2 linked regions of the Homo sapiens genome follow. The protein of the gene in region 1 interacts with the protein of each later gene in a pairwise test. Each region holds a gene or a part of one and is shown in the gene's direction. Other genes may lie near its edges.

Region 1 (3,097 bases):
GCCTTGTGGGGTGACTCTGTGGGCTTGGCCCTTCCTTGGAAACAGGGTCAGGGTTGGCTTGATGTCTGGGGCATCAGGTCCTGACACTTGGGTGACCACGTAGACACTTGTGCATCCAGGTGTATGCCCTCCTCCCAGGTGAGTACCCATTCCATGGCTGCAGGCAGATCGAGGGTCTGCCGGATGCCTCCATGCAGGGCTGTGTGATTTTGGACATTTCCAGCTTCTCTCAGCACAGCATAGCTCAGGGCTGATGTTTCCACGTGACAGGCATTTGTGGATCACCGTGGGCCATCCAGTTCCATGCAGGAAGCTGACGGATGTCTGGACTCCACTGGGGCGCGGGTGGAGATTTTCTTTGCTCCTTCCCTATAAGCTCTGCCCTTTGCCTGGGGCCTGGCATGTCTAGGCGGGTGGATGGCACAGGGCAGCTTCCTGCCTGGATGGGTGAGGGGTAGAGGTGGTACCAGGCTCCCTGTGGGGAGTCCAGGTGGGGTGTGGGGCTGGAGCCCTTTTTCTTGGTCATTTAACCCTACGCCCCGGTGCCAGCACCTTCCTTTTTGGTGGTCAGGGGCAGAGCCACCTACTCGCTGGGTTAACTTAAGCAAGTTGTTTGCCTCTCTGGGCTTCAGTTTCTCCATCCAAAAAACGGGGCTGTTGAGAGGACCTGAGGTTGAGTTGACTGGTGCGTAGCACAGAGCCTGGAGCCTCCCTTGCTCCCTTTAGCGCGTGCCTTGCCCTGTCTTTTCTGCTCAGGTTGCCCAGGTCGCCCAGGTCTTTTTTCTCTAGCACCTTTTTTCCTCTCTTGGTCTCAGCTGGGCCTGGTTCTCCCGGGGCAGGAGGGAGGGGGTGTGGGTGGGGCCTGAGGCCCCGCAGCTGCTGCCTTGTGCCTGCTGATTGGCTCCTTGTGGAGGGGCGTGGTCTCTACCTTATAATAGGGAGGGCGTCTTATCCTCTCAGCCGCGGCTGAGCCTCTTTGTCTGAGCGCGCTCGGCTTTTTTTTTTTTTTCTCTCTCCTTCCCTGCAGCAGTGGCCGGTGTCCAGCTGCCTACTTTCTGCCCGGATCTCTGGCTCCTCATCTCTCCGGTCTCCGCAGACTAAAGCCCTCGGGATATGCAGCAGCCATGCCTGTGCACACGCTGAGCCCCGGAGCCCCGTCCGCCCCCGCCCTACCTTGCCGCCTGCGGACCAGGGTCCCTGGCTACCTGCTACGGGGGCCGGCAGATGGTGGAGCCCGGAAACCGAGCGCTGTGGAGCGCCTGGAGGCCGACAAGGCCAAGTACGTCAAGAGCCTGCACGTGGCCAACACCCGCCAGGAGCCTGTGCAGCCCCTGCTGTCCAAACAGCCGCTCTTTAGCCCTGAGACTCGCCGCACAGTGCTCACGCCCAGCCGCCGAGCCCTGCCTGGCCCCTGCCGACGGCCCCAGCTGGACCTGGACATCCTCAGCAGCCTCATCGACTTGTGTGACAGCCCCGTGTCCCCTGCCGAGGCCAGCCGCACTCCTGGACGGGCCGAGGGAGCCGGCCGTCCTCCCCCAGCCACCCCTCCGCGACCGCCGCCCAGTACCTCTGCGGTCCGCCGGGTGGACGTCCGCCCCCTGCCCGCCTCGCCTGCCCGGCCCTGCCCATCACCCGGCCCTGCCGCCGCCTCCAGCCCAGCCCGGCCGCCGGGTTTGCAACGCTCCAAGTCGGACTTGAGCGAGCGCTTTTCTAGGGCAGCCGCTGATCTCGAGCGCTTTTTTAACTTCTGCGGCCTGGACCCGGAGGAGGCGAGAGGGTTGGGTGTGGCCCACCTGGCACGGGCCAGCTCGGATATCGTGTCCCTGGCAGGGCCCAGTGCTGGGCCGGGCAGCTCTGAAGGGGGCTGCTCCCGCCGCAGCTCGGTGACTGTTGAGGAGCGGGCCCGGGAGCGCGTTCCCTATGGCGTGTCGGTGGTGGAGCGCAATGCCCGCGTGATCAAGTGGTTGTATGGGCTAAGGCAGGCTCGGGAGAGCCCAGCAGCTGAAGGCTAGGCGCCACTGGGCCTGGAATTCGCCACAGGACGGATCTTACAGAGGCAAGTGGTCCCTGGACCTCTCTTGCATCCATTCTCTAGACGGCCGTGTCAGAGGCTCCACCCTGTTGTGAACTTGGTATGGAGGCAAAGGCTTAGAGGCTGGACCAGCATTGTTGGGCAAGGACTGACTCTCCAAGGGTTTTGTTCTTGGCTTTGGACACCTGAGAACCCCCTCCTCCCCTCCCCCAATACAAGGTTTTTGACATGAGTGTACTCCTGCTTAGTTCCTCTTGTGGGGCTGCATTTGCGGTGCTTTGCCCTCCCCACTGTGAGTGAGGGGCCAAGGGATCTCCTCAATCCTGTCTCCCCAGCGGCTCTGTTTCCTCCTTCCTTCCTTGGCCTCTGTCCTTTGCTGACTTCCTCTTCCTTACCCAGCAGAACTCACCCTGGGGTCGGGGCAGTGGGGAGGGGCCTATCCACTGCTCTTCCTAGTCCTTGGCAGCTGGCCTAGGTGGGCAGACTATAGGAGGGACTGGTTAGGAGTCTGCATTGCTTTGACTTCCCTCTCCTTGGTTAATAAACACAAATGCTTGTTTCTCAAGGGCTGGGCCTTCAGACTCTTCTGTGTTCACAAGAGAAAGGGTGAGAGAAGTCTTGGGGTGGGGCCATCAAAACAGTAATTGTTCACCCCGAGGTCTAGTGGTGGGGCATGATGATAGCGGCTGGCCTGGCTGGAGACATGTCCCCGTGGTGGGTTCTCATAACTCTCCTGGAAGGCTAGCAGGCCTGCCTCATCGAGGAGGAAACTGAGATCCAGCCATGAGTGAGCTGGAATAGAGCTGGGAGTAGGAATGGGGTCTTTCCCCTGCACCAGAAAGGGAGCCTGCAGGGGAAAGGCCGATGGGGTGCATAGACTCTCCCCAACCAGGAGTGTTCCATCCAAGCCCTGCCCAGTTCCCAAGGGGGCAGGAAGCTCGGAGAGGGCAAATCCTGAACTTGAGGTCACACAGACCATAGAGTGAGGATGAGAAGTGGGAGTTTTGGAGGAAGAGAGACTTGGGGTGGACGGCACAAAATGAGTGGCCTCCCTGGCGATCTTGG
Region 2 (7,505 bases), on another chromosome or scaffold:
CTTTATTGAGATACAATTTTCAGACAATAAGATGCATCAATTGAAAGTGCGCAGGTCAGGCTGGGCACAGTGGCTCACGCTTGTAATCCCAGTGCTTTGGGAGGCCAAGGTGGGAGGATCAGTTGAGGTTAGGAGTTTATGCCAGCCTGGGCAACATAATGAGGCCCCATCTCTAAAAAAATTTTTTTAAATTAGCCAGGCATGGTGGCATGTGCCTGTAGTCCCAGCTACTTGGGAAGCTGAGGTGGGAAGACAACTTGAGCCCAGTAATTCAAGGCTTCAGTGAGCTATGATCATGCTACTAAACTCCAGCCTGGGCAATAGAGTGAGACCCTGTGTCTAAAAATAAAAATAAAAGTAGGCAGCTTCATGGAGTTTGAAAGCACATGAATTTGTGTAATCAACACCCAGATCAAGATACAGAATAGCATTTCAAAATGTAGAACATCAACCTTAGAAATTCTTTCTTGTTGCTTTCCAGCCAGTACATCTCTCTGACAGAGACAACCACTACTCTTATCTCTAACCATGTCAAAGATGAGTTTTGCCTGTTCTTGAAGTTAATATAAATGTAGTCATACTGTTCGTACTGTTTTGTGCCTGACTTCTTCAGCTCAATATGTTTTTGAGATTTTTCCATGGTGTCATGAGTACCGGCAGTTCATTCTTTATTGTTGTTGCATACTACTCCATTACATAAACATGTCACAGTTTGTTGTCCATTATTCTGTTTATGAGCAGTTATTTTTATTTTAGTGCTATTAAGAATATAGCTGCTATAAGCATTCTTGTGCAAATATTATTGTGTGTATAAAATATATACATTCATCTCTCTTGGACATATACCTAACCATGAAATTGCTAGGTCCTTGGGGGAGGTCCTTTGTCAGAGAGAGAGAGAGAGAGAGAGAGAGATAGTATATTACTGTATAAATAAATATGTGTTTATTTATTTTTATACACATATTTATTTATAGAGTCATGTGCCACATAATGACATTTCAGTCAACAATGATGGAACATACACATACAAAAGCTGTCCCAAAAAACTATAATGTCATATTTTTATTGTACCTTTTCTATGTTTAAATGTGTTTCCAGATAACAAATACTTACCATTGTGTTACAGTTGCCTACTGTATTCAGTACAGTAACATGCTGTGCAGGTTTACAGCCTATGAGCAATAGACTATACCATATAGCCTAAGTGTGTTATAGGCTATACCATCCAGGTTCATGAAGTCCACTGTGATGTTTACACAACAACAAAATCACTAAAGGTGAATTTCTCAGAATATATTCCCATTGTTACAAAAGATATGACGTTGTGTATGTATGTGTTCTAATGTGTGCGTTGGGGGGTGGGTGTATGAAGAGAGAGAGAGAATATTTTAACCCAGGCTGTAGCTTGCCTTTTCACTTTCTTAGCTATTTATCTGATCAACAAAAGGTTTTCATTTTGATGAAGTCTAATCTATTTATTATAGTGTCCTCCATGAGCTTAGAAGTCTTCTCATGGCAGAAGGTTATGAATATAATCTTCTGAGTTTTCTTCTAAAAACTTTAGACTTGAAATCTTCACAATTAAGTGTTTAATCCAACCTGAATTAAGTTTTATACGTAGCGTGAGGTAGAGATCAAGATGTATTCATTTTGGCTATACAAGTATCCACTTGATTCAGCGACAAGTATTGAACAGTATTGAAAAAACAGTATTGAAAAAGCTTTCCTTTTCTCATTGACTTGCTTTGGGATCTTTGTCAGAAATCAATTGACCACATATATGTGAGTCTATTTCTAAACTCTATATTCTTTCTCATTGATCTACTTTCCAACCCTTATGCCAATATCACACTGTTTTAATTGTAGTAGCATTATAGTAACTTGCATGAATTTACATTTCATTGCCACAAGCAATGAGAGTGCTATAGGCAGTGAATGTATCTGTTATCAAACTTTGATTTTTTTCAGTTTGATAGGTGGAAAACTAAAATATCTCAGTATAATTTAAATTTACATTTCTCTTTTCATGAGTGACATTGAGCATTTTTTCTTATTTTAAGTGCCTTTTGTATTTTCCTTTTGGTCACTGTCTAGAGTGTAATTGTAATATTGTTTCCCAGTTTGTCATCTTGTCTTCTGGTTTTACAGGTTGTATTTTTCACCCAAGCACAAGTTCAAACACTGTTATTTTATGGAGTCAAATCTAACAGTTTTTTACGGCTTCTTAATTTTGAGTCATCATTGGAAAAGTCTTCTGACTCCAAATTTATAAAATAATTATCCTTTTGGGCATATTTATTATTTATTTTTCATATCTCAATCTTTGATCTACTTGTAATTCGTCCCACTGTAAAGGATGAAGTATGGTTTCAACATTCCCTGCCCCCACACCAAAGGGAATACAAAATTGTCCCCAAAGTACATATAATACATATAACGGTCTACCTTTTCCCCATGGCTTTTATTTTGTATTTTATTTTATTTTATTAAAAATGAAATCGCACTGTGTTGCCCACCTGAACTTGAACTCCTGGGTTCAAGTAATTCTTCTGCCTCAGCCTCCTACAGAATGGGAGAAAATTTTTGCAATCTGTCCATCTGACAAAGGGCTAATATACAGAATCTACAAGGAACTTAAACAAATTTACAAGAAAAAACAAACAACCCCATCAAAAAAATGGGCTAAGGATATAGAAAGACACTTCTCAAAAGAAGACATTTATGTGGCCAACAAACATATGAAAAAAGCTCATCATCACTGGTCACTAGAGAAATGCAAATCAAACCACAATGAGATACCATCTCACACCAGTTAGAATGACAATCATTAAAAAGTCAGGAAACAACAGATGCTGGAGAGGATGGAGAGAAATTGGAACACTTTTACACAGTTGGTGGGAGTGTAAATTAGTTCAACCAATGCAGAAGACAGTGTGGCAATTTCTTAAGGATCAAGAACCATAAATACAGTTTGACCCAGCAATCCTATTACTTGATACATACCCAAAGGATTATAAATCATTCTACTATAAAGACACATGCACATGTATGTTTATTGCAGCACTATTCACAATAGCAAAGACATGGAACCAACCCAAATGCCCATCAATGATGGACTGGATAAAGAAAATGTGGCACATATACACCATGGAATACTATACAGCCATAATAAAGGATTAGTTCATGTCCTTTGCAGGGACATGAATAAAGCTGGAAACCATCATTCTCAGCAAACTCACACAGGAACAGAAAACCAAACACTGCATGTTCTCACTCATAAGTGGGAGTTGAACAATGAGCACACATGGACACAGGGAGGGGAACATCACACCGGGGACTGTGAGGGGGTGAGGGGCTAGGGGTGGGATAGCATTAGGAGAAATACCTAATGTAGATGACAGGTTGATGGGTACAGCAAACCACCATGGCACTTGTATACCTATGTAGCAAACCTGCACGTTCTGCACATGTATCCCAGAACTCAAAGTACAAAAAATCTCATAATTCAAGAAAAAAAAAAAAGGATGAAAAGGGGCCACTAGCTGAGGATGTGGACAGCCTGTAGAAGCTGGAAAAGGCAAGAAAATGATGTTCCCCTAGAGCCTCCATAAAGGATTAGCAGCAAGTAACTTTCTGAAGAAAATGCTGAGTAAGTATTCCTCAGAAAGAAAACACACCCCTTTCAATGAATCCTATTTAAACATCCAGTATAAACCAACACTGTGATACATTTTTATCTAATGTAATACCACAAGCAAACACCAAGCACTAAAAATGTTATAAAATGTGGACTTTGGAAAACCAAAAGAGAGCTAGTCTCTTTTCCAAGAAATTTCTTATTAGCAATCAAACCCTACCTTTTCCCCATGGCTTTTATTTTATTTCATATTTTATTTATATTTTATTTTATGTTATTACATTTTATGGAAAGCTAAAACATAAATCTAGCAATTATCTTTAAAACAAGACTTTTAAAAGACTAACATTTTAATTCATACTCACATTGTCCTGACACTGAAAATGGGGAAACCATTTGGGCAGAACAAACTAAAATATTGACTTCTGATTTCTAAGTTTACCAATAATTATTAAACATTAATAGTTTCCCTTTTCTAGAGAAGAAAGGAAAAGAAGGATGAACTCATTCCTGGTTAAGCTCAGTGCCAAGTGGAGAGGTCAACAAGAATGTAATGAACTTAGTATACTCACACCTGCTTAATAATGGATGCTGTTAGGACAGTTCCTTTTGAAGACATAATTTGAAGCTCTGGGTCCAATAGACAAGTAGTAGTTATGATGGGTAATAACTTACTAACAGCCTAAATGCACATGTTTATGAGACAAATAACTCTTCTTAAGCAAGTAAAAAGCAGACTAATAAGATGTTCCTACAGGATTTGATATAAACCTGAGAAAGGAAAACATCCCACCTGTGTGACACCACGTAGAAGAGAGGCTATATAAGCACTTCAAAGAGGAAAACACCAAGAGCCTTGGAATTCAGACTCTGTGGAGGTGGCTTGAGCTTTTCATCCTGGTGACCACAGACCTGGAACAAACTAAAGCCAGACACATACTATGGACACCAAGGGCTGTACAACAACCAATTCTCCTTCAACCCCATGTCAAAACTGCTCTAGGATTACAAATGTTAGTACCATCTCTTCTAACAACGGCTGCCATCCTGGTGGCCTTACAGTCAACAACTGTCAACCAGCTGGCCACGTTCTCAGAATTCCCTGGGACCAGGGCTGCCAACCCACTCCTCGCTTTTGTCGCAAGCCCATCTACCTAATGAACAACTTCAATGCCCGTTTTTCTCTGGATGACTGCAGCTGGTATGGTGAAGGCATCAACAGTAATGAGAAGGAGACCATGCAAATCTTGAACGAGCGCCTTGCTAACTACCTGCAAAAGGTGCGAATGCTAGAACGAGAGAATGCTGAACTGGAATCTAAAATCCAGGAAGAAAGTAACAAAGAGCTCCCTGTTCTATGTCCTGATTACCTGTCTTACTACACTACCATTGAGGAGCTCCAGCAGAAGGTAAGATTCCTAAGAACCTGTTTAATCGTGTTGTGAATTAATGGTTTCCAAGCAACAGTTATTTGCTAAACTTTAATATTTTTTGTTCAGTTGATGCTGAAAATTTTTTTGAAGAATAGAAAAATTTCTTGAGTGAAATTGTCATCTTGAGGCAGCATTCAGAGTCTGATAGTATTTCTGGTCAGGCGCAGTGATGCACACCTGTAATCCTAACACTTTGGGAGGCTGAGGCAGACAGATCACTTGAGCCCAGGAGTTCTAGACCATCCTGGGCAACATGATGAAATTCCATCCTTACACACACACACACACACACACACATACACACACAAAAAAAAATTAGATGGGCGTGGTGGCACATGCCTGTGGTCCCAGCTACTTGGGAGGCTGAGGTGGGAGGATCACTTGAGCCCAAGAGGTTGAGGCTGCCATGAGCCAAGATCCTGCCACTGCACTCCAGCCCAGACAAAAGTGAGACTATGTCTTTAAAAATCAGAAACAAAAAGAAGAGTCTCATGGTGTTTCCTTTCTCCAGAAATACACTCTACCATTATAACTAGATGACTCAGGACCAAAAGATGTTAACAGCAAGTTGTTGCCATTTTTTAAATAAAAATAGGGAAACAGAGATCAGAGAAAATAAATTTTGCTTTAATGAGTTTCTAAGCAATTTAGTTTTTATCCATTTTTCAACCATCACCACCTTTTTCTCCTTTTATGCTTATGTTATCATCTCCACATTGCTTGGTTTGTTTCTACACCAAACCTAAGTTTGTTATGCACAGACGTATTCTGCTACTACATATCTGGATTTATTCAGTTTTATTCATTCAACAAATGTTTACTGAGCAGCAACAACATTGGGCCAAACATTGTTCTAGATTCTGGGAAAATATTGGTGACCTTTAAAAAGTCCCTGCCCTCATGGAGTTGACATTCTAGTGGATCATGGTATTTATATAAATTTAGGATGGATTTTATTTTATTTTTTATTTATTTATTTATGTATTTATTGAGATGGAGTCTCACTCTGTCACCAGGCTGGAGTGCAATGGCGCGATCTCTGCTCACTGCAACCTCCAGCTCCCAGGTTCAAGCGATTCTCCCTCCTCTGCCTCTCTAGTAGCTGGGTCTACAGGCACGCACCACCACACCCAGATAATTTTTGTATTTTTTTTTTTTTTTGAGACGGAGTCTCGCTCTGTCTCCCAGGCTGCAGTGCAGTGGCGCGATCTCGGCTCACTGCTAGCTCCGCTTCCTGGGTTCATGCCATTCTCCTGCCTCAGCCTCCCAAGTAGCTGGGACTACAGGCGCCCGCCACCACGCCCAGCTAATTTTTTTTTTTTTTATATTTTTAGTAGAGACGGGGTTTCACCGTGTTAGCCAGGATGGTCTTGATCTCCTGACCTCGTGATCTACCCGCCTCGGCCTCCCAAAGTGCTGGGATTACAGGCGTGAGCCACTGCGCCCGGCCAATTTTTGTATTTTTTAGTAGAGACAGGGTTTCACCATGTTGGCCAGGATGGTCTTGATCTCTTGACCTCGTGATCCGCCCGCCTCAGCCTCCCAAGTGCTGATATTACATGGGTGAGCCACTGCTCTCAGCCTGGATTTTTTAACAACAACAACAAAAAAAATACTTAAAAGTTTCTAGTTAAGTACTTTTTGCTGATCTTTTAGGAAAATAACAGGAAATCTGACTTTCTGAAGTTTTCCAAGCTTTGTGAGCATAGCTATGAAGATTAATAAAAAGTCTACTTAGCCTTCCCCTGTTACTTGACACACACACAAACCCCTTGGTTCTTAAAGAAGGAAATCTTGGTGTTTGCTTCATTTGTGTGTACAATCTCTTAATTCTAGATCTTGTGTACCAAGGCCGAGAATTCCAGACTGGTCTCGCAAATTGACAACACCAAACTGACTGCAGATGACTTGAGAGCCAAGTAAGCCCACCCAACACCGTCATCAATGACAGAGCTCACCCTGAGTCTGACCGAGATGCCCTCAACAAAATTGTCCCCATGTCTACTAACCCTCTTGCCCCAGATGATGTTGGCACAAGCCCAGAAAAGACTTTCAAATTCAATGAATGATTAAGATTAATAACTGCTCACATGTATACAGTACCTATAGTTTCTAACTTGTGAACCCATTTGATTACCTACACAATAGTTCAGTAAAATAGATAGGACTAATATATTGTTACTCTCTTTAAGGTGAGAAATCTGTGGCTTAGTGAGGCTAAGTTACTCACCCAAAGGTAAGCATAACTAGCACAAGTCAAAACCGAAACTTGGACACATGTTTTCTGAGCCCTAATCCAGTGCTTTCTTCACTTACATTGCATTGCCACTAGGGGCAGAGGAAGGACAATAAATTCCCATATCTCAAAGAACAGCAATGTAGATCCCCCTAGCAAACTAATTTGGGAATAATAATTAAGTTATGATCTATAT

The links. The genes of interacting proteins can lie anywhere in the genome.
Region 2: the proteins of FAM110A (region 1) and KRT39 interact in binary tests that used the Homo sapiens proteins (3 or more experiments, as listed by UniProt).

What each region holds. Positions count from the first base shown.
Region 1 is NC_000020.11:843,681-846,777, forward strand, and holds the end of FAM110A (protein FAM110A), read left to right. Parts: intron 1-962; exon of another isoform or gene 963-1,027; 5' UTR 1,028-1,124; coding exon 1,125-2,012; 3' UTR 2,013-2,597; downstream 2,598-3,097.
Region 2 is NC_000017.11:40,963,933-40,971,437, reverse strand, and holds the start of KRT39 (keratin, type I cytoskeletal 39), read left to right. Parts: upstream 1-4,489; 5' UTR 4,490-4,581; coding exon 4,582-5,049; intron 5,050-6,909; coding exon 6,910-6,992; intron 6,993-7,505. UniProt on the Homo sapiens protein: May play a role in late hair differentiation.